3 linked regions of the Homo sapiens genome follow. The protein of the gene in region 3 purifies or fractionates together with the protein of the main gene of each other region. This does not show direct contact. Each region holds a gene or a part of one and is shown on either strand. Other genes may lie near its edges.

Region 1 (6,966 bases), on a different chromosome or scaffold from region 3:
GTGCGCCCCACCATGCCTGGCTAATTTTTGTATTTTTAGTAGAGACAGGGTTTCACCATGTTGGTCAGGCTGGTCTCAAACTCCTGACCTCATGATCCGCCACCTCGGCCTCCCAAAGTGCTGGGATTACAGGCATGAGCCACCGCGCCCAGCTGCCAGGACATGCATTTTTAAATTTAGATAACTACTATCTCACCCTCCAAAAACACTATATGGATTTATCTTCCCATCTGTCATGTATGAAAGTGCCCATTTCCCCATGTCTCCCCCAACACTGGGTATTATTTATTTTTTATTTTATTTTATTTTTTTTTTAGACAGAGTCTCGCAGTCGCCCAGGCTAGAGTGCAGTGGCATGATCTCGGCTCACTGCAGGCTCCGCCCCCCGGGGTTCATGCCATTCTCCTGCCTCAGCCTCCTGCGTAGCTGGGACTACAGGTGCCCGCCACCTCGCCTGGCTAATTTTTTGTATTTTTAGTAGAGACGGAGTTTCACCGTGTTAGCCAGGATGGTCTCGATCTCCTAACCTCGTGATCTGCCCGCCTCGGCCTCCCAAAGTGCTGGGATTACAGGCGTGAGCCACCACTCTCGGCCAAGATATGCTTTTCTAACAGGCATATTACATTACCAGAAAATAGCTTCTGGGCAGTTTTAGGTAGTGTGTGCCAGTGCCAGTGGTCCCCAACTTTTTCCCCCACTGTGGTGGGCAGGAAGTCCTGTGCCCCTTCCCAGTGCCCCTCAGCTGGTACCTGCTGCTGTTCCTAGGTTTTGGGAACTCGGCACCTTCAAAGGAGGCAAGCACAGAGGCAGGGCGGGCAGCGCTGCTGGAGCGGGCGCTGCGGGACCTGGAGGTACAGAATGCCGTGTTGGTGAGCCCCTCGCTGAGTGGCCACTATGCCCTGCCCTTCCTGATGCGAGGCCACCACCAGCTACATGGATTTGTGCCCATCGCACCCACCTCCACCCAGAACTACACCCAGGAGCAATTCTGGGCTGTGAAGGTACTGGGAGAAGGATCTCAAAGGTCCTGGCACCCTGTCTGTGGCTTGGGGGGGTTCAGGACTCAAGTCTTACTTGGAGGGACATGGCCTTATCCCTGACCTTGGATGGAAGAGTTGGATGGTGTTGGGGAAGGCTTCCTAGGAAGTGGCTTGGGGGTCAGAAACTCATCAGGCCCCAAGATCACAGCCCCCTGCCTTGCCCTGCAGACTCCAACCCTTATCCTGTATGGAGAGCTGGACCACATCCTGGCTCGAGAGTCACTGCGGCAGCTCCGCCACCTGCCCAACCACTCTGTGGTGAAGCTACGCAATGCAGGCCATGCCTGTTACCTCCACAAGCCGCAAGACTTCCACCTTGTCCTGCTTGCCTTCCTTGACCATCTACCTTGAACTAACCCACTCCCAGCTCCCAGCCTGGCATGAGCTTGGACAGTCTGGACCGCCACCCTCCCTGAACCAGGGAGACAGCCTCTGGGATTGGAGGCCAGAGGCCAGGGTCAGACCCAGCCAGGACTCCTCATTTCATCTCACAGACACAATAAAAAAGCATATTTGTCCTGCCTGGGAAGTGACAGGTTCCGTTTCCTGGTGTGCTGTGGGAAAGACGGGAGTGGGAGGCAAGTCTGGGACTACTTTGGGCCTGGGAGCTGGAGGGGATGTCCAGCAGTCTGAGAAGGCTAAGAATGCGCCACTTCCTAAGTGCCTGGCCTCACCACTCTGTGCCTGAGTTTCCTTATCTGTAAAACGGGTATGATGGCAACACCTAGGTTGGAGGGTGGTTATAGGACTGAATGAGTCTGGATAACTGAGTACTTGGCCACATAAGGCTGGGGAATTGCTGGTGGGAGGCGGGGTGTATTACTGCTGCTGCATGACCACAGGGATTGGTGGGAAATCCAGGGTCTGGACAGCCAAGCCAAGGAAGTCAGGAACCTAGAGGGTATGGGGAACGCGATTTAACAATTAGCCAGCATTGGCCGGGCGCAGTGGCTCACACCTGTAATCCCAGCACTTTGGGAGGCCGAGGCAGGCGGATCACGAGGTCAGGAGATCGAGACCATCCTGACTAACACGGTGAAAACCCGTCTCTACTAAAAATACAAAAAATTAGCCGAGCGTGGTGGCGGGTGACTTTAGTCCCAGCTACTCAGTAGGCTGAGGCAGGAGAATGGTGTGAACCCGGGAGGCGGAGCTTGCAGTGAGCCAAGACCGAGATCACACCACTGCACTCCACCCTGGGTGACAAAGCGAGTGAGACTCCGTCTCAAAAAAAAAAAAAAAAAAAAAAAAAAAAAAAAAAAAAAAAACCAGCATTAGCTGGGCACTGTGGCTCACATCTGTAATCCCAGCACCTTGGGAGGCCAAGGCGGGTGGATCACCTGAGGTCAGGAGTTCAAGACCACCCTGGCCAACATGACAAACCCTGTCTCTACTAAAAATACAAAAATTAGCCCAGCGTGGTGGCACGCACCTGTAATCCCAGCTACTCTGGAGGCTGAGGCAGGAGAATCACTTGAACCCAGGAGGCGGAGTTTTCAGCGAGCCGAGAAGGAGCCACTGCACTCCAGCCTGGGCAGCAGAGTGAGACTCCATCTCAAAAAAATAAATAGCTAAATAATTAGCCAGCATTGTTATGAGTTAAAGTCTATTTGCCCGCATGAATAAATAGGTAAATAATTAGCCAGCATTGTTGTGAGTTAAAATCTATTTGCCCGCATGACAGAGTGAGACTCTGTATCAAAAAAATAACTAAATAAAGAATTATCCAGCATTGTTATGAGTTAAAGTCCATTTGCCCCCATGTTATGTGTGAGCAGCCAAGACTTAAACCTCAGGAAAGGTGGGACAGAACCCTTCCCACAGCGTGCCTCCTTGGCCTAGAGATTGAAGTCTTTGTCCCTCACCCTTCCCCAAGCTGACTCAGCCCCTGGAGCAGAGGGCAGACCTGGCTGGGAGTACAAAGGGCAGCTGGGGCACAAGTGGGCAACTGCAGCTGTGGCCTGCAGGGGGCCAGTGGTACACCTGTGCCTGTTTAGCCTCCCCCTCTGGTGGCTGCAGAAGAGCCAGTTTCCTCACACTGTCCATCCAGGGTCACAATTACATCCATTCACAGTGACTTCATCACACCCACCCACCATCTCACACTGTCACATACACAATCATATCCACTGATAGACTGCACACGCAGTGGCACGCTTAAACCGTCACACGTGCTCTTGTCCATGCATTCATTCCCATTCTAGGCACTGTCCGGGCTCGGCACGGCCCCGGGCAGAACCTTGCAGGAAGTGGAGCTCACAGCCTCCTGGAGTTCAGTGTGGGCAGACAGACATTGGCCAATAACTTCAGTACAAGTGGAGCTGAGGCGTCAGGGAGGACCTCCCCGAGGGGCTGAGGCCTGCAGTGGGGAGCCGTTGGAGACTTGCCGAGGAGGGCGAGGGCGCAGGCCCAGGGCTTTGCAGCTCTGCATCTTGAGAGCCTCGGGGCGGCCCCCTTTCCTCCCGCCCTATCCGGGGGCTGAAGGAGGAGGCGCCCTTAGGGGACGGGACCGTCCTGAGCTCCCGGCGCATACCTGGGGGCAGGAGTGGCAGGCGTGTCGTGTGGGGCGGGGCGAGCCTGTCAGAGCAGGGCCAGCCCGGAGCTCGCAACTCGCGGGGCGGCGCTGGCCGCGGCGGCCGCTGCCCGGGGACGGGATCCGGATCTAATCCTCCAGTAATCTCGCTGAGGCCCGAACCAGAGGCGGGCGGGGACATCCGCGCCGACGCGGCCGCTGGCGCCGGGACGGCCCTCACTGACGGTCTTCGGTCTCCGCCCCGACATCCGGCCTCGGCCACGTGGTGGGCGGACCGGGGCGGTCCTGAGCCTGCGACCTCGCAGGCGACCTCGCTGGACCCTAAGTCCAGGCCACAGTCAGGGAAGGGCGCTGAGAGGCGAGCGTGAGCCCAGCGACAGGAGAGTGAGGTGGGGGCCCTGGGGAGGGATAGAGGGACTGGGGCTCCGTGGCTTGAAAGCCGGGCAACTGGGAGGCGTTGGGGTTTTTCTTGTTTGTTTTTTGTTTTTGTTTTTGCCTTTTTTTTTTTTTAGGAGGGCGGGGGGAGTACAAGTCTGGGTTCAAACCTTGCTCAGCTACTCTATGAGCTGTCCTTGAACCTCTCTGAGCCTCTCAGCTTTCTCCTCTGTAAAGTGGGCATTCTGAGCACAAACTTCATGGGGCTCTTTTGGGGATTAAATAAGGAAATGTGCTGGAAGCAGACAGCCCAGCGCCTGAAACAGAATGGGTGCTCCTTAATGGGGGCTCCGAAACACGGTATCCTACCCCTGTGGGAAGTCCGGGAGCCGCCGTGGGGACAGGCTGTGTGCAGGAGCTCACCATTTCCAGGGTCTTGGAGGGGTAGTTAGCCATTCACTTTGCCCCCAGCTCACCACGCGCAGCGCCATGACCAGCAAGGGTCCCGAGGAGGAGCACCCATCGGTGACGCTCTTCCGCCAGTACCTGCGTATCCGCACTGTCCAGCCCAAGCCTGACTATGGTGAGAAGACGGTGGTTCCAGAGCCTGTGACGGGGCCTAAGGGACGGGGACTGTGCTCTAAACCAGCCTCCAACCCCTGTCACCCAGCTGAGCCCCACTCTGCTGTCCCAAATGGCTCCCCAACCCCTCCAGCCATTCCCCAAGTAAATAGACTGAGGCAGCCCCTCCAGGTTAGGGAGGAACCCTTTCCCCAGAGACTCTGCTGCTGACCAAGGTTACTCCTGGCAGCTGGTTAAAGAAAAACTTCACCTCACTCTCCAGGGCAGGAGTGGTGGGGGAAGCCTGAGGCAGCCACAGGGAAAGGAGAGGCCCTCCAGAAGCCCACTGGGGCTGGACAAAGGCCACAGCCCTTAGGGAGTCAAGCTTGGTGGCTAGGGCCTGGGAGGTGGCTCCTGCCTGTTATCCCAGCACTTCAGGAGGTTGAGGCTGGCAGATTGCTTGGGCCCAGGAGTTCAAGACTAGCTTGAGCAACATGGCAAGACTCTGTCTCTACAGAAAAAATACAAAAATTAGTCAGGAATGGTGGCACACCTGTAGTCCCAGCTACTCCAGAGGTTGAGGTGGGAGGATCGCTTGAGCCTGGGAGGTTGAGGCTGCAGTGAGCCGAGATCGCACCACTTCACTCCTGCCTTGGTGACAGAGTGAGACCCTGTCTCAAAAAAAAAAAAAAAAAAAGGAAAAGAAAAAAAAAAAACTTAGTGGCTGGGAATTGTGTACATGGGTCCAAATTCCTCCTCTGTGATTAATCAGCTGAGAGATGGTGGGTGAATCTCTTCATGTCTCTGTGCCATAGTTTCCCATATTTAAGGAAGATAACACCTTCCTCCAACCCTGTGTCCAGACATCCCCCTGGACTTCCAGAAAGGGTCACTGAGTAGCCAAAAATATCTTCTTTCTTGGGGATGGAAATGCAAGCATCTCTGAGGGATATGGAGTGTGTCGGGGAGGCAGCAGCCCATTTCTGGGTATGCTCCACTCTCCGGGCTGCCTGGGCTGGTGGGAAGCTGTGGGTAGGCAGAAGCAGCCCCAAGACACTCTGTGCCTCCAGGAGCTGCTGTGGCTTTCTTTGAGGAGACAGCCCGCCAGCTGGGCCTGGGCTGTCAGAAAGTAGAGGTGAGCCTGGGGCCCTAAGCGGGGAAGGGAGGTGGGCCTGGGCACTTCCTCACCCTGCTCAGACCACCTACCCTCCTGACCATCTCCAGGTGGCACCTGGCTATGTGGTGACCGTGTTGACCTGGCCAGGCACCAACCCTACACTCTCCTCCATCTTGCTCAACTCCCACACGGATGTGGTGCCTGTCTTCAAGGTGTGTAAGGGGCTGGGGAGGTGGGCAGTGCAGGCCTTGGGGACAGACATGATGCAGACCCCAGGATTCAACCTCAAGTTGCTCATGGTCCTGGCCCCAGTCCTGACACTAACTCTCAACATCCTTATGACATTACACCACTCAAGCAGCCTTCATCCAGCAGCAAGTTCTGGGCCAGAGTGGGGTGGGGACTGGGGGGTGGGAAGCAGGAGACAGCAATGGGGGATGGCAATCAGCTGCCTTCTTCAGCCCCCGTCTTTCCTCTCCCACCACTCCACCTGTCACTCCAACCCTATGGTGGGCTCCTAGGGCAGGGCCACTGTTGACCAGAGTGGATTAATGGCTAAATTTGGGGTTTGGGCCCCTCTTCCCATCCCTGCCCCCAGGAACATTGGAGTCACGACCCCTTTGAGGCCTTCAAGGATTCTGAGGGCTACATCTATGCCAGGGGTGCCCAGGACATGAAGTGCGTCAGCATCCAGTGAGTGTCCTCCATTCCTACTCCTCCACAATGTCCCCACTGGTCCAGTGGATTGAAGCAGGACCTGAGGGGGTGATTGGAGAAACTCAAGGCCAAGGAACACCGTGACCTCTTGGACAGGAACTACTGCCATGACCATTGCATGGATAGGGAGATTCAGACCAGAGAGGGGCAGGGACTTTCTGGAGTCCCTATCAGGGTGTGGCAGGGTAAAGTCCAGGACACAGGACTCCAGCCTGCTGGCCCTGCCTGTGGGGCCAGCCTGCGCATCTGGTGGCTCCCCCAGCACCTGGCTTATGCCCCCTCAGGTACCTGGAAGCTGTGAGGAGGCTGAAGGTGGAGGGCCACCGGTTCCCCAGAACCATCCACATGACCTTTGTGCCTGGTAGGAGTGGCTCAGATACCTTTGGGAAAGGGGAGGGTGGGGCGGGGCAGCCTCCTCATCTCACGTCCCTGCTGCTTTTACAGATGAGGAGGTTGGGGGTCACCAAGGCATGGAGCTGTTCGTGCAGCGGCCTGAGTTCCACGCCCTGAGGGCAGGCTTTGCCCTGGATGAGGGTGAGCAGGTTGGCAAGCCAATGAGCAGCCAGGCAGGGAGTAGGAGGCTGCTAGTGGGGACTGAGCTGCTCCACCCTCTGAACCCCCTT
Region 2 (7,110 bases), on a different chromosome or scaffold from region 3:
GAGCCTTCATGGGCCTCGTCCTCTGACAGGGACAGCACTGATGAGTCACCATCTGTGGGAGGCACCGCGTCCGGAATTCAACCCCGGGAGCTGGAACGTTCTTTCCATGCAGACTTCTGCTCACATCCCTGTTCCTCTCTCCTGCTGGACACCCCACAGGAACGCGCTCAAGGATGACACTGCAGGGAGCTGCTCCGGGGGAGGGCCTGGCCCACTCTGGGACATGTGTGACCTTTGAACCCCTGTGCCTGCAGCCGTGGCTCCTTCCTGCCTCTGCTGCAGATACCGAGGCCGGGGCATCCCAAATCCTGAACTCCAGGGGTGGGAATTGAGGCCTTTATCAGGAAAACTCATCCTAAGAAAACTGCAGTGGGTTCCTGGGTCCCAGTGGCTTCTCCCATGGGGAAGAGGGTGCAGGAGGCCGAGGGAGGAGGGAGGGCAGGTGGAGGCATGGGTTGCAGGGTGAGGGTGCGGGACCCACCCACGAGCTTCACCCCTCGGACCGGCTTCCCGTGCAGCTCGCCCTCACAGTAAAAGATGTAGTGGTCCTTCACGTGCGACCTGATGATGTATGCCACGTGCTTGCCCCCGTCTGCAGAAAGACAGCAGCACATTCCTGAATTAGCCACCAGGGACTTCAGAGAGGATCCCGGGACAGCGTGCGTTGCCAGGCCCAGCAAGCCCCGCAGCTCCTGCACCCTCCCAGCCTCCCAGAGCTCCCTGACCCAGGTTCCCCACCAGGCCTGAGCCCCAGGCCATGGGACCCCCACTTCCCAGGAACCTGATGTACCCAAGAGGCGGCCACATCCCAAACCAGTGAGTCACGGGGGGTTCCTCCGGGTATGAGGTCTGCGGAGGTGGGAGTTGGGGTACAGCCCCCCGCAGCCAAATACGACTCTGCTCCTGGCCCTGCCAGAGCCACAGCCAGGGCTACAGGGCAAGCCCAGAGGGTCCGCCCCGGGACAAACCTGCCACACCTGGTGTTTGGGGTCAGGTGTTCAAGTCTCTAATGCAAATTGACCAGTGGGAGAAGAGAGTGGGCTTTTAGTGGAGTCAGAAGGCAGCAAAAGGCTTCCCAGGCCAAAAGGCCACCCCAAAAAGGCACTGGCTGCCCCCGCACATCCAGCGTGTGTTCAAGCTCAGGCTCTGGCTCAGGCCCCGGGACTCACCGGCCGTGTATTTTCCCGGCTCGTCAGTTTTCTCCAGGACGGCCTTCACCTCCTGGCACCGGCCACTTATCCTGGAAAACAGAAGCCCCCTGGCAAAGCGGCCCTGGCCTGTGCCTCCCCCGGCCCTGGAGCAACCATGCTGCAATGCCCTGCAAATGTGGCCCCGAGTCTGCCACAGGCCCATGGAGGAGGGTGCTTCTCTGCATCTCAGACCCAGGCACCAGCGGCCCCTCCGGGTCCCATGCGGCAGTTCCCGGGGTCTCCCGAGATGGCCAGGAGCTCTGCACCGCTCCTCCTGGTGGCTGCCTTCCCAAACCCCCCGCCCCCAACACATTTCCTGCCAGAGGCACCCAGGCTGCCTGGTTTGCAGGCAGCGTCTGTGGCGTGGGCCTGAGCCTCATCCCGCCAGCTGCATTCTTCCTTTTAGAGACATTCAGGCACAAGCCCCATATCCATCATCATCTGGCCCAGAGAGGGAAAGGTTCAGTGAGGGGCTTTGGGGGAAAAAAAAATCGGGGTCATTGCCAGGGTCAGTGACTTCCTGAGATTCAGCCCCCAGGACCGGAGCACAGGCACTGCATGCCACTCAGGAGGGAGCCATGCGGGTGAAATCACACAGGTGGGAAGTCACAGATGTGAGCCACGCGGGTGGAAGCAGCCCAGGTGAGAGCCGCACAGGTGAGCGCTACACAGGGATTTCAAGGGGGTCTTCTCCATGGTGTCTTCTCCTATGCCCCCTCTTGGTCATTCTGCAAGCCCCATCCCTGCACTTCTCCAAAGCAGAAATTTACTGCCAGGACTGGCTCTGACTCTGGTCGGGGGTAAACACCTTTTCCCAAAGGGGCCTGCACGTCACCAGACATTCCCTAGTCGGAGGAGGAAGTGGGCGGTACCCAGGGCTGCCACTGGTAGCCCACAGGGTCTGATCCGGGGCCTCTGCCCCCTCAGGGCCCCTCCAGCCGAGGCACCTCAGTGGCACAGTTTGCCCTCAAGCATTGCAGGAGGGGCCGAGAGAGGCCTCCCAGCAGGTCTGCCCACCTCCCCAGCACCAGAGCTCTCCTGGGTGGGGAAAGGGAAGGCCCTAGACCAGGTTGCAGGCTGCCCGGCCGGCTGGCAGACACTCACAGCATGGTGACCTTGGCTTCCAGGTTGCCCCCTTCCAGGGTCGTGAGGGTCATGGGTGTCACCGATTCCAGATTCATCTCAGGGAACTCCCTGTCCACCGTCATGGCCTTCAGATACCACGTCCCTGACACCTGGAGAAGGCCCCTCTCTATCAGGCTCAGGCCGACTGCTCCAGAGCCTCCCCCTTCCCTGGCCTGCAGCCCCTAGACTCTACCGCACCCCGAGGGCTGGAAACGGGGAACGTTCCCCAATCTAACCCACCCAGAAAACACCCAGCACCCTCGCCAGGCCCACTTGAAGGTGGCTCCAGCCCCCACAAGCCAGCCAGGACCACAGGAGCCCTCATCCCCAGGGAAGAAGTGAAGTCAGCCAGACCCCCACCCTCCCAGCCCTGCCCACTCTGCACCCCTGCGCCACCTACCCTGCCAGCCCAGACCCCTGCTGCCCCATCCCACCATTCCCTCAGGGCAGGGCTTGAATGCCCAACCCAAAAACGAGGGTCTCCTTGGATGGAGGAGGCATGGGGTCTCCATCCAGTCTCAGCCTCGCCCCTTGCCCCCTCCAGCCCAGCCTTCCCATCCGGGCCTCACATCCTGAATCTCCTCGTCTGAGGCCAGGAGGTGGTGGGCCTGCAGGGCAGCAATGAGGCCAAGGCTGACGGCCAGGAGCAGGGGCTTCATCTCCGGAGTCTGAGTCCACGGCCGCCTGACAGGTCGCTTGCTGGGGCTGGGAGAGGCTGTACCAGTCCTCCCACAGCCGCCCTTTATACCGCTGGGCTCAGGGTCCCCCAGGGACCTGGCACAGGAGACTGACCAATCCCTTCCTGGATGTAAACCACTGCCAGTTCTGCAATGGAGCAGATAACCTGCCATTATTGTTGGAGGCTGGTGAATAACAGCTTGTTAATCCCAGAGGATCACTTGGACAGGACCAGGTCCAGAGGAGCAGATTTGCAGATTTCACCTGAAGGGAAACTGAAGGGAGTGAAGGGTGTGCAGGCCTCCTGGGGACGTGTGCAGCCGTAACAGATGCCCCCCAGCCATCCCACACTTGCTGACGTGCACACTGTCAAGGGGGTTTGGGGTTGGAGTCCGAGGGCCGTGGGCTTGGGGCTCAGCTGAGCTTCCTGCATCTCTGGGCAGGTTACTTGGCCTCAGATTCATCATGGAAAAAAAGGGACCCTCCTGTGTGAACACGATCCCGTGTGCATTTAAAGACGGTGTCCACTGTCCTGAGCAAGGTGTGCAGTAACGACCCTCTCTGCTCCACACACAGAGCAGCAATAGGTCAGACAGACAGAAGACCAAGACAGGTGTGTGTGTGTGTATGCATGTGTGTACATATATACATGCACAAACGCACACACACTCACATAAAACAAGGAATGGAGGAGAAGCACAGGCTGGTGATGGGGCAGAGGCAGGGGCCTGTCAGCTCCAAGTCCCAAGGCAGGCAGAGAGGGCCTAGGTCCGGCTCCTGGGAGTGATGGGAGGGGCTTCCCTGACTCCAGAAAGAAGGCTGAGAAACCCTCCTTGACACATCCCAGGGCTGTAACTTCGTATAACTTAGTGGAGCACTGTGGGCATAGGAAGGCAAGAGGACATCAACACAGCCTCAAGGGCAGAAGCTGAGACAAGCCGTCCTTGGAAAGGATGACTTTATCTGTGACATGCTCTGCATCACTGCAGAGCAGAAGCCTGGGACCCGGGATGGGAGCAGAGGCTACAAAACACTGCTAGACAGAGGACAGTGACAACAAGATGGCAGAGAAAGGCAGAAATGCAGAGACACAATATCCTCACCTTGAAATAAGCTAGAAAGGCCAGGTTCCAAATTACCCAAGGAAACACCACACTAAGAAAGGCAGGCTAAAAATGAGCAATTGGTACAGGAACTTACACCAGCCAAGGAAAGTCTGACACACACTTTAAAACTGCAGGAGTATGATCAAGATGCCTAGTGATTTAAAAATATATAAAGTATAAAATTAGAACTGGCCAGAATATAAGAAATAAGGAGAGACGAAATAGAAATAATTACAAATCTTGAAGATGAATAATAAAGTGAATAAAAAACTCAATAGACAGGTTAAATTCCAGACTTGACATAGTAGAAAAGAGACTTAGTGTCATGGAAGATAGTACTAACAAAATCAATGAAAGCAGAAAAATTCAAAAGAGAAATTGAGGTGTTACAGATAGATTCAGTCTCCAGCCTGGAGCTAGTAATAAAATGAGTGGAGGAAACCAACTAGAGTGCAGCAGCTCTGAAAACACAACACACAGAGATATACACACACACATGCACACACACGCACACACACATGCACACACACACATGTGCACACATACAAATGCACACAAACCCATACACATGCACACCCACATACACACGCAGACATACACGCGTGCACACACCATTCATTCATACATACATGCACATACATGCACACATACACACACACATGCACACTCACACACATACACACATGCACACACATGCACAAAGTTAACACACATGGAGAATAGATCAGGAGGTTCCAATATAAACAGAATAGGAGTTCTGAAAGAAAAACATTTTCTAAAATGGCAACAAAGCAACAGAATAGCTCAGAATTCTTCAGAATTGAAAAGACATGAAGATGACACCCCAGATCTAAATTACCAAGGAATGATCAAAATTGAGAAATCCACTCCTAGAATATTACAGTGAAATGCAGATCATCCAGGAAAGGAGAAAAAAAGTCAAAATGACCAGAAAGAAGAGCCACACTACATACCATAAAAGCGGATGTGGACTGATGGCAGACCTCTCAATAGCAACGCTGCCTTCCGGAAGACAGTGGAGTGACGTCTTTAACAGACCCGGGAGAAATCACATTTACCTGTGAATGTTATTCTCAGTGCAACTTTCATAAAATATTGAAGGCAAAATAAAGACATCTCGGACATTAAAAAACAACTGAGGCCCAGTGTGGTGGCTCATGCCTGTAATACCAGCACTCTGGGAAGCCAAGGTGAGGTCAGGAGTTTGAGACCAACCTGACCAACATGGTGAAACCCCATCTTGACTAAAAATACAAAAATTAGCCAGGCATGGTGGCGTGCACCTGTAATCCCAGCTACTCAGGAGGCAAAGGCAGGAGAATTGCTTGAACCTGGGAGGCAGAGGTTGCAATGAGCTGAGATCATGCCACTGCACTCCAGCCTGGGCAACAGAGCAAGACTCCATCTCGAAAAAATAATAATAATAAAAATTAAACAACAACAACAACTGAGAGCGTCTACCACTCACTGGTCTCCATCAAAGGAAATTTGAAAGGGAGAATTTTAGCAAGTCTATAGGAGACCGAGGTCAGGGGGATAAATGATGTCAGCAAGGCAAACTACCTGCTGGCTGTACAAACACAAATGGTGCAGACTTTGATGGTGGGGGAAAGGTTCTGTTTCAGTGCATATTTAAAGAGTGCTAAATGCACACAAAACACACTTGTGCCCACATGCATGGGTTCATACGAACAAGAATGCACACAAAACACACTTGTGCCCACACGCATGGGTTCATATGAACAAGAATGCACACACAAAACACACTTGTGCCCACATGCATGGGTTCATATGAACAAAAAGATGCACGTTAAGCACGGGAGAATAGCGATGCATGGAGAGGGAAGTGGAAAGGGGTGGGCAGGGATAATAAATTTTCAAAATACATAAACAAGCCTGTTAGACAAAAGCATGATTTATTTTTCATCAGTATAGATGAAAAGGGCGCCAACATGAAAACAATTAAAAGCACAATCACAAGAAGACGAATGTTCATGAATGTGAAGGCATACCGCATCAAAATGCAGGAAGCCAAAACAGACTGAAGAACAAAGGGGTCAAATACACAGTCGGAACGGGAGACGCCAGAACTTCTCCATTAGAAACAGAGGGCGAGGGTGTTAAAAGTTCACAGCAATGTTGGAGCTTTGGCACCAACATTGTAAAGTATACAAAGACACTGCCTCAAAAGCTAAACAATTATATTGTTATAATTGTTACAATGAAAAATTTTAGTTGCTAATTCTTATTAAATACACATGGAATAGTTTTAAAATAGGCCACATACCAGGCAATATGGGGAACTTCACAGAACTAACGCAGCAGAGCCTGCCCTTTGTAGCTACAAGGCAATAAACTAGAATCGACAATGAAGAGACTGTTACATAAAGAGAAATATAAACTTCAAGTTTACAGCCTTAAACGCATCTATAATACAATAAAGATGTCAGGACAGAAGTCCTCTCTCTGTGAAAAGTTCTCGGTCATGAGCACGCACGTATGCCCCCGGCCAGCTCTGCGCTCCTTCGTCAGGACAGAAGTCCTCTCTCTCTGTGTGAAAAGTTCTTGGTCATGAACAGGCATTTATGCCCCGGCCAGCTCTGTGGTCCTTCGTCAGGACACAAGTCTTCTCTCTCTGTGTGAAAAGTTCTCGGTCATGAACATGCACGAATGCCCGGCCAGCTCTGCGCTCCTTCGTCAAGACGGAAGTCCTCTCTGTGTGAAAAGTTCTCGGTCATGAACACGCACGAATGCCCCGGCCAGCTCTGCAGTCCTTTGGTGGTCACCTCGCAAAGGAGAATTGATCGGAGCTGCTGCTTACGGGGCAGATGCCCGTGGCAGCATCACCACATGCACATCGTGACGGCGGCCGCGTGTGTCACGCAGCCCCCAACTGATGATGAGAAACCAACCTGAACCTCACGTCAGCGGGAAGGCTGAGTTACCTTTCCATTCTATTTATGAAAAATTATTTTCATAGGAAGCAGTAA
Region 3 (7,106 bases):
GTTGGCATGAAGACCCTTTGAGATAGGGTTGTACTTGTTCTGTATTTTTCATCATAAGAAGATTTGGGTAGTTTTTACAAAATCTCTTGAGTTACCCAACTCAGGAGTTCAGTACTAACCACCCACGAAACATGACCTTTAATCCAAAGACTATGTATGCATGCTAATTAGTTGTTAGAGAGCATACAGACTCTGTCTCTGGTATTCTCCCTGAATTTATTAATTGGTTCTGCTAAAAGATTTAATAGATTCATTCTTAAAAACAGAGTAAGTGTGAGAGTTTTCTCCAATTTTATGAACAAATTAATAGCTAAATCTATGTACAGATCATTAATAATTTTCTCATAATAAATTCCAAGAAATAAAATGATGAGATTGAAGGATATCCACATTTTATAAATATTGCCAAATTACTATACTGAAATGTACCAATTTACATTCCTATGTTGTAAGTGAGAAAATCCAGCCAATAAATGTTAATGACATGGGGCTTCTGAGTCCCTAATAGGAATCCTGAGATCTCTAAATAAAGACATGTTGACTTGTGGATACTGATGGTACTTGCCTGCTTTGCACATGTAGAAGGTACCCGTCAGGTTGGTCTCAAGCACAGCGTGCCATCCCTTAGAACTGATGTGTTCAGCAGGGGAAAGAAACTGGCCTCCTCCATTGTTCACCAAGAAATTGATCTTACCAAAAGTATCTAAGGTAGATTTGACCAAATTATTCACCTAAAGAAGAACAGTAGAAGTTACTAAAAGGAAAAGTTTAATAGCCTAACTTGCTACCTCGCCTGATTGATTGCTCTAGACAGAGTTTGCAATCTCTCACAGTGAACAGTCACTCCAAGTGCCACAATGAATGAACATGCAGCAATGAATAAGACTAAAAATCCTACACCAATGAGTAATGTACCAGCACCCAATACCCACAGATCACAAAGCTAAAACTGTAATTTTGACGACAAGATATATCCAAGGGCCTGGAACACCCTTGAGTAGGGCAGGCCTCTGTCATATATTAATTTGACAGCTACCAACCCAGAATAAACAGTGATGAAATCAGATTAAAATGAACATTAAAAAATGACTTAAAGGGCAAGGCACGGTGGCTCACACCTGTAATCCTAGCACTTCGGGAGGCCGAGGCAGGCAGATCACCTGAGGTCAGAAGTTTGAGACCAGCCTGGCCAACACGGTGAAACCCGTCTTTATGAAAAATACAAAAATTAGCTGGGCATGGTGGCATGCACCTATAGTCCCAGCTACTCAGGAGGCTGAGTCAGGAGAATTGCTTGAACCTGGGAGGTGTAGGTTGCAGTGAGCCGATATAGTGCCACTGCCTTTCAGCCTGGGCAACAGAGGAAGACTTTGTCTCAAAAAAATAAAAATAAAAATGAAGACTTAAAGGACAAAAGGCCATCTTTAGCTGGACCACATTCTTGCCTCCCTTCCTCTCCTTCTCCAGGATTCGCCGGCTCAGTAAATCATTAACATGAGAATCTCTTTCACAGCCTCTGCTTCTAGTGAGCCTCATCTAAGACAGCTACAATAGGAGAACCTGAAGCATAGCCAGGTTTAAGAAACACTACTGCAAATTACAATGAATGAATAAATGATACAGATATATCTCCATTACCTCCTCCTCATTCCGGATGTTGCATTGTATGGGAATGACTCGTGCCTGCTTTGTGGGAGGTAGGTTGGCCTGCAGTTCATCTGCCGCAGACTTCAATCTCTCCAACTTACGGGATGCAATGACCACATTACTCCCTGAGGAGAAACAGCCAGAGAACAAATAAATATGCCTTCATGGGATGCAATGACCACATTACACCTTGAAAAGTAAACCGCCAGGGAACAAATAAATATGCCTTCATGAGTTGTCCAAATTCCAACAATAATAATATTGAAAAAATATATCATGTGTTCCATTTTTTAAAGTATTTTTTATTTTAGAGTCAAGGTCTCACCCTGTTGCTCAGGCTAGAGTGCAGTGGCTTGATCATAGCTCACTGTAACCTTGAACTTCTCCCGGGCTAAAGCAATCCTCCCACCTGGCCTCCCAAAGTTCTGGGACTACAGGCACAAGTCACTGCACCTGGCCATGCGTGTTCCTATGTCTTAAAAAAAAGCTGAATTAGGATTTTTGCTTCTGGACAAGATGGAGTAGTAGAAACTGAATTTGCCCTCCATCCTGAAATAACTAAAAAATTGGACAAAATATATGAAATGATGGTTTTCTGGCACTGGACATCTAGTAGCACTGGATGGTCATCTCTGGGACAGTGAAATCAAACATGAGCCCTTGGATTGCCCCAGCTTGCTGCCTGGAGAAAGGTTCTACACTGCAGCAAGGGAGGGGAACACATTCAGAGACCAAAGTCTCCCTGGCGGAAGAGATGAAGTTGGGAGTCTAGGGAGCCAAGGCAGTGAGATTGCCCAGGGGATAGGGAGAAAAGATATACAGAGAGCGAGAACTCCAGAGATCTGCAGAGTCTCTCTGGAATCTTCACCTGAGTACCAATCGATGCTTGGGAATAAATCAAAGAGGAAAGAACTACCAAAAATGGGCAGGGAGATCAAACCCTGGCACTCACACAGCACTGGGAATGGTTAGTGTGCCCACCAGAAAAAAACCTTTCACGGGGCATTCGGTAAAATATGCAGAAGCAGATGGCTTCTGCAGTGAGGCAAAATTCACCATAGACTAAAGGCTGCTCAGATCAAGCCTCTTTTAGAGTATCAAATTGTTTTCAAGTGACCTAACTGTATCCCAGAACAAAGCTCAAGAATATATACATATTTTTTCTTTTTCTTTTTTTTTTTTGAGACGGAGTCTCACTCTGTCGCCAGACTGGGGTGCAGTGGCATGATCTCAGCTCACTGCAACCTCCACCTCCCGGGTTCAAGTGATTCTCCTGCCTCAGCCCCCCAAGTAGCTGCGACTACAGGCGTGCACCACCAGGCCTGGCTAATTTTTGTATTTTTAGTAGAGATGGGGTTTCACCATGTTGGCCAGGGTGGTCCCAATCTCTTGCGCCTGTCTAAGAATATTTATAAGAATATAAAAATAGCCAACATCCATCAAGGTCAAATTCAGTATATGGCATCCAACAAAAAGAACTACCAGGCATGCCAAGGAACAGGAAAATAGCAGCACATAATTAGGAGAAAAGTCAATTAATAAAAACAGACCCAGGCCGGACGCAGTGGCTCACACCTGTAATCCCAGCACTTTGGGAGGCTGAGGCGGGCCGATCATGAGGTCAGGAGTTTGAGACCAGCCTGACCAACATGGTGAAACCCTGTCTCTACTAAAAATACAAAAAGTAGCCAGTCCTGGTGGCATGTGCCTGTAATCTCAGCTACTCAGGAGGCTGAGGCAGGATAATTGCTTGAACCCGGGAGGCAGATGTTACAGGAGCTGAGATCGCCCCACTGCACTCCAGCCTGAGTGACAGAGCAAGACTCCATATCAAAAAAAAAAAAAAAAAAAAAAACCGGAACCAGAAATGACACTGATGATATAATTAAATAGACCAGTGATGAAGAGAAAAATCTTAAAAGCAGCCAGAGAAAAACAACACATTAAGTATACAACAAGAAAGATAAAGACTTCTTTCAGAAACAATGCAAGCCAGAAGACACTGAAACATCTTTACGGTATGGAAAGCAATGAAAAAGATGGTGAACCTAGAAATCTTAACCCAGTGAAAATATCTCTCAAAAATGATGGCAAAATAAAGACTTTTTCACACATATGAAAGCTGGAAGAATTCATCAAGGTGATCTGCACTACAAAAAAGATGAAAGGAAGTCCTTCAAGTAGAAGGAAAATGATGCCAGATAAAAATCTAAAAATATACAGAAGAAGAAAGAGAACTAAAAATGGTTCGTGTGTTTGTTTTTGAGACAGGGTCTTACTCTGTTGCCTAGGCTGGTGTGCAGTGGCGATCTTGGCACACTGCAGCCTTGACCTTCCAGGATCCACTGATCCTCCCACCCCAGCCTCCCGAGTAGCTGGGACCACAGACATACACCACCATATCTGGCCAATTTTTTTTTTTTTTTTTTTTTTTTTTTAGTAGAGATGAGGTCTATGTTGCAGAAATAGTAATTATGTGAGTAAATATAAAGACTTTTCTTGTTTCTATTCAGATCTCTTTAAAGGTATAGTTCAAAGCAAAAATAATAACAACATATTGTAAGATTTATAACATATGTAGAAATAAAATGATTCCCTCCTTCTCCTTGAGAATAATAGCACAATGGCTAAGAAGGGGAAATGGAAGTAGAGACGGTCCTTCTTTTGCTCTGCTCCAATATGCTCTGATTTCAGTTAGCTTAGCTTAAAGACACCAGTCTCTCAACAACATGGTTCAAATTTCAACAACCATGGTATATTAACTGTAACTGCATAAAATGCAAACTTTACTGCTAGCTTTTCAACCCACAAATCATAAATAACAGATGCACATCAAGATCAGTGATTAATCATGTCATTTCTTCCAGCGTCTATCAGTGAATGCCCACTGTGCATCTCTTCTTCAGTTCAGAAGAGCTCAGACAGCAAATAATATAGCTGTGTCACCTCCTGGTCTTTCAACAAGAAACCCAAGTGACATTTTATAAAAACACATGATCTAAGGGGGGACTGGCCAACAAACATGAAAAGTGAGACCAAGAAATGAAAATTTGTAACACTGGAAGCGAAATTAGAATGCATGTCAGGGGAATTATAAAAGGGGAATGCGTGACACTGCTGCCAGTCTAGAAACTACAGAAAGCCAAAAGATCTTACTGAAGGCAAACTTAACATCATGAGGAAAGTGCCTGTGACAAAGAAGATGAAGATATCCCAGAGGAAGTGATGCCCACAAAAAACTTCAGATTAAAGACACTTTTGGGGCCAGGCATGGTGGCTCACTTCTGTAATCCCAGCACTTTGGGAGGTCGAGGTGGGCGGATCACAAGGTCAGCAGTTCGAGACCAGCTTGACCAACATGGCAAAACCCCTTTTCTACTAAAAATACAAAAATTAGCCAGGTGTGGTGGTGGGCGCCTGTAATCCCAGCTACTCCGGAGGCTGAGGCAGGAAAATTGCTTGAACCCAGGAGGCAGAGGTTGTAGTGAGCTGAGATCGTGCCATTGCACCCCAGCCTGGGTGACAAGAGCAAGACTCTGTCAAAAAAAAAAAAAAAAAAGAAACTTTTGGAAATATTTCATGACATTGAAAGTATAAAGGATAAAATGTTGGAAGCTGATCGAAACATAGAAAGGAGTACAATAATTTAACAAGGTACAGAAAAAAATGCTTGCTCTATATCATAAGGTATACAATGAGAAGGCAAGCACTAATCGAATGACTCGACACACTTCACATGAAAATAAAACAGTTTAATTTTCAATACTGAGGTTTTTAAATTTTTATTTTTAACTGACAAATAACTATACATCTATGGGGTAAAATGTGATATTTTGATATATAAATATATTGTGGAATGATGAAATCAGGCTAATGTATCTATCACCTCTTATCATTTCTTTGAGCTAAGAACCACTTTGAGCTAAATCCACTATTCTCGGAATTTTGAAATACACAATGCATTACTAACTATAGCCATCATGCTGTGCAATAGATCATCAGAACTTATTCCTCCTGTCTAAATGAAACTTTGTACTCTTTGACCAACATCTCCCCAGTGAAACTGGTCTACTTTTATTATTTTTTTCATGTCCCTCTGTGGCAGACTGCCATGGTTACTACTTGAGACCGTCACTACGACAGTTACTACTGTTACTACTTACTATTTGAGACGGTCATTACGACACTGAACGAAGGAGGATGAACGCAGAAATGAAAACTTAAAACAAAAGAAACTGTTTTAAAGGAAGGGGCCAGGGGAAGAAGAAGAGGGTTCCCTGCTTCTACTGAGTAAAGGCAGCAACCTTGAGCTCCTACGGCCTTTTGTATTTATTGGGTAGAAAGAGCAGGGAGGAGCAGGTAACATTTGGTCAGCTGCTTAACTGATCACAGGTTCACATTATTGCTAACAGGCTTCAGATGTGCCTCATCACAAGAAACACTTGCGCCTGGGTCGTGACTGCCCTCAGCATTCCTTCAAGGGTGGCAGACGCAGTTTGTCATTTGCCAACATTCTGCATTTATGAGAACAGTTTGCTGTTTGCTCATATACCCTCCAGCGGTATACTGAGTTGATCACGACCCTCACTCTTTCAGCCTGCAACATCTCTCCCTTTTTGTTTTTGAATTAATTGAGACAGGTAATTGCAAAATGTGCAGCCTTGGTGGTTCATTCCGTCTTCGCATTCAGCTCATACTGGGGGAACCGGGCCCATGGTTGGGATCCATGGGTCGCTCTAGTCTCCCGTTCTGTGGTCGCACACACCTTGAGGGCACCCACACAGTTTGTTCATCTCCTGCAAAAACGCAAGCGTACCCTTATCCCCACGTCAGTAAATCTACCAAAACAGAAGCAAAGGCTTTTGTGGCTGTGGCCAGGAGGCATGCCGTTGCCAAAGCATCTGCTCCACAAGCTGTAACTCAGCTTCTGCCTCTTTGGTTAATTACCACGGGGTAAACTTCTCATTGATAAGGAGAGGCAGGCTCTCTCTGATTAACAGAAGGCACATGGAAAGCAAATTGAAGCTCATCCTTCTCGTGCAACAGTATAGCAAAGAAAAAAAATCATTAAGCCTTCAATTTGTACTGTACAGGTGAGTCCATTAAATGTTATGGGTTGTGATAGATAAATCTCTCTCCTAGTTGTACTTTCAAATCCTTGATTCCCTCGCTTCTCCCTTCGTGGAGAAGGGTGCAACTTACAGGGAACAAGCAATAGTTGTGCAATATATTCTCCTGGTTCAAAAACCCAAAGTTCTTGTGACATTACCACTACTGGAATTTCCTCTTCACAATCAAAATCAACAACTCCTGGGGCTACAGTAACGCCCTGCAAGTTAAGATGACTTTTGCCCAAAACTCTCTATTTGTCTCTATTTAACTCTACCTCTATTTCTATTTATCCCTACTTATCTCTATTTGTCCCTGCAGGCCTCTTTAGGTCCCTTCAGGTCTCTGTT

The links.
Region 1: the proteins of PECR (region 3) and ACY1 purify together in Homo sapiens (affinity purification with mass spectrometry; 3 studies listed by BioGRID and IntAct, with this or other methods). This does not show direct contact.
Region 2: the proteins of PECR (region 3) and LCN1 purify together in Homo sapiens (affinity purification with mass spectrometry; 3 studies listed by BioGRID and IntAct, with this or other methods). This does not show direct contact.

What each region holds. Positions count from the first base shown.
Region 1 is NC_000003.12:51,979,628-51,986,593, forward strand, and holds the start of ACY1 (aminoacylase-1), read left to right. Parts: upstream 1-3,907; 5' UTR 3,908-3,962; intron 3,963-4,419; coding exon of another isoform or gene 4,420-4,437; coding exon 4,438-4,531; intron 4,532-5,579; coding exon 5,580-5,644; intron 5,645-5,733; coding exon 5,734-5,838; intron 5,839-6,224; coding exon 6,225-6,319; intron 6,320-6,627; coding exon 6,628-6,704; intron 6,705-6,787; coding exon 6,788-6,877; intron 6,878-6,966. Other genes in the region: protein ABHD14A, read left to right, coding at 766-1,001, 1,209-1,391; ABHD14A-ACY1 readthrough (NMD candidate), read left to right, coding at 4,420-4,531, 5,580-5,644, 5,734-5,838, 6,225-6,319, 6,628-6,704, 6,788-6,877. UniProt on the Homo sapiens protein: Catalyzes the hydrolysis of N-acetylated amino acids to acetate and free amino acids.
Region 2 is NC_000009.12:135,517,362-135,524,471, reverse strand, and holds the start of LCN1 (lipocalin-1 isoform 1 precursor), read right to left. Parts: upstream 3,033-7,110; 5' UTR 2,975-3,032; coding exon 2,885-2,974; intron 2,426-2,884; coding exon 2,295-2,425; intron 1,241-2,294; coding exon 1,170-1,240; intron 593-1,169; coding exon 482-592; exon of another isoform or gene 1-481. UniProt on the Homo sapiens protein: Could play a role in taste reception. Could be necessary for the concentration and delivery of sapid molecules in the gustatory system.
Region 3 is NC_000002.12:216,064,747-216,071,852, forward strand, and holds part of PECR (peroxisomal trans-2-enoyl-CoA reductase), read right to left. Parts: intron 1,773-7,106; coding exon 1,639-1,772; intron 732-1,638; coding exon 566-731; intron 1-565. UniProt on the Homo sapiens protein: Participates in chain elongation of fatty acids. Catalyzes the reduction of trans-2-enoyl-CoAs of varying chain lengths from 6:1 to 16:1, having maximum activity with 10:1 CoA. Has no 2,4-dienoyl-CoA reductase activity.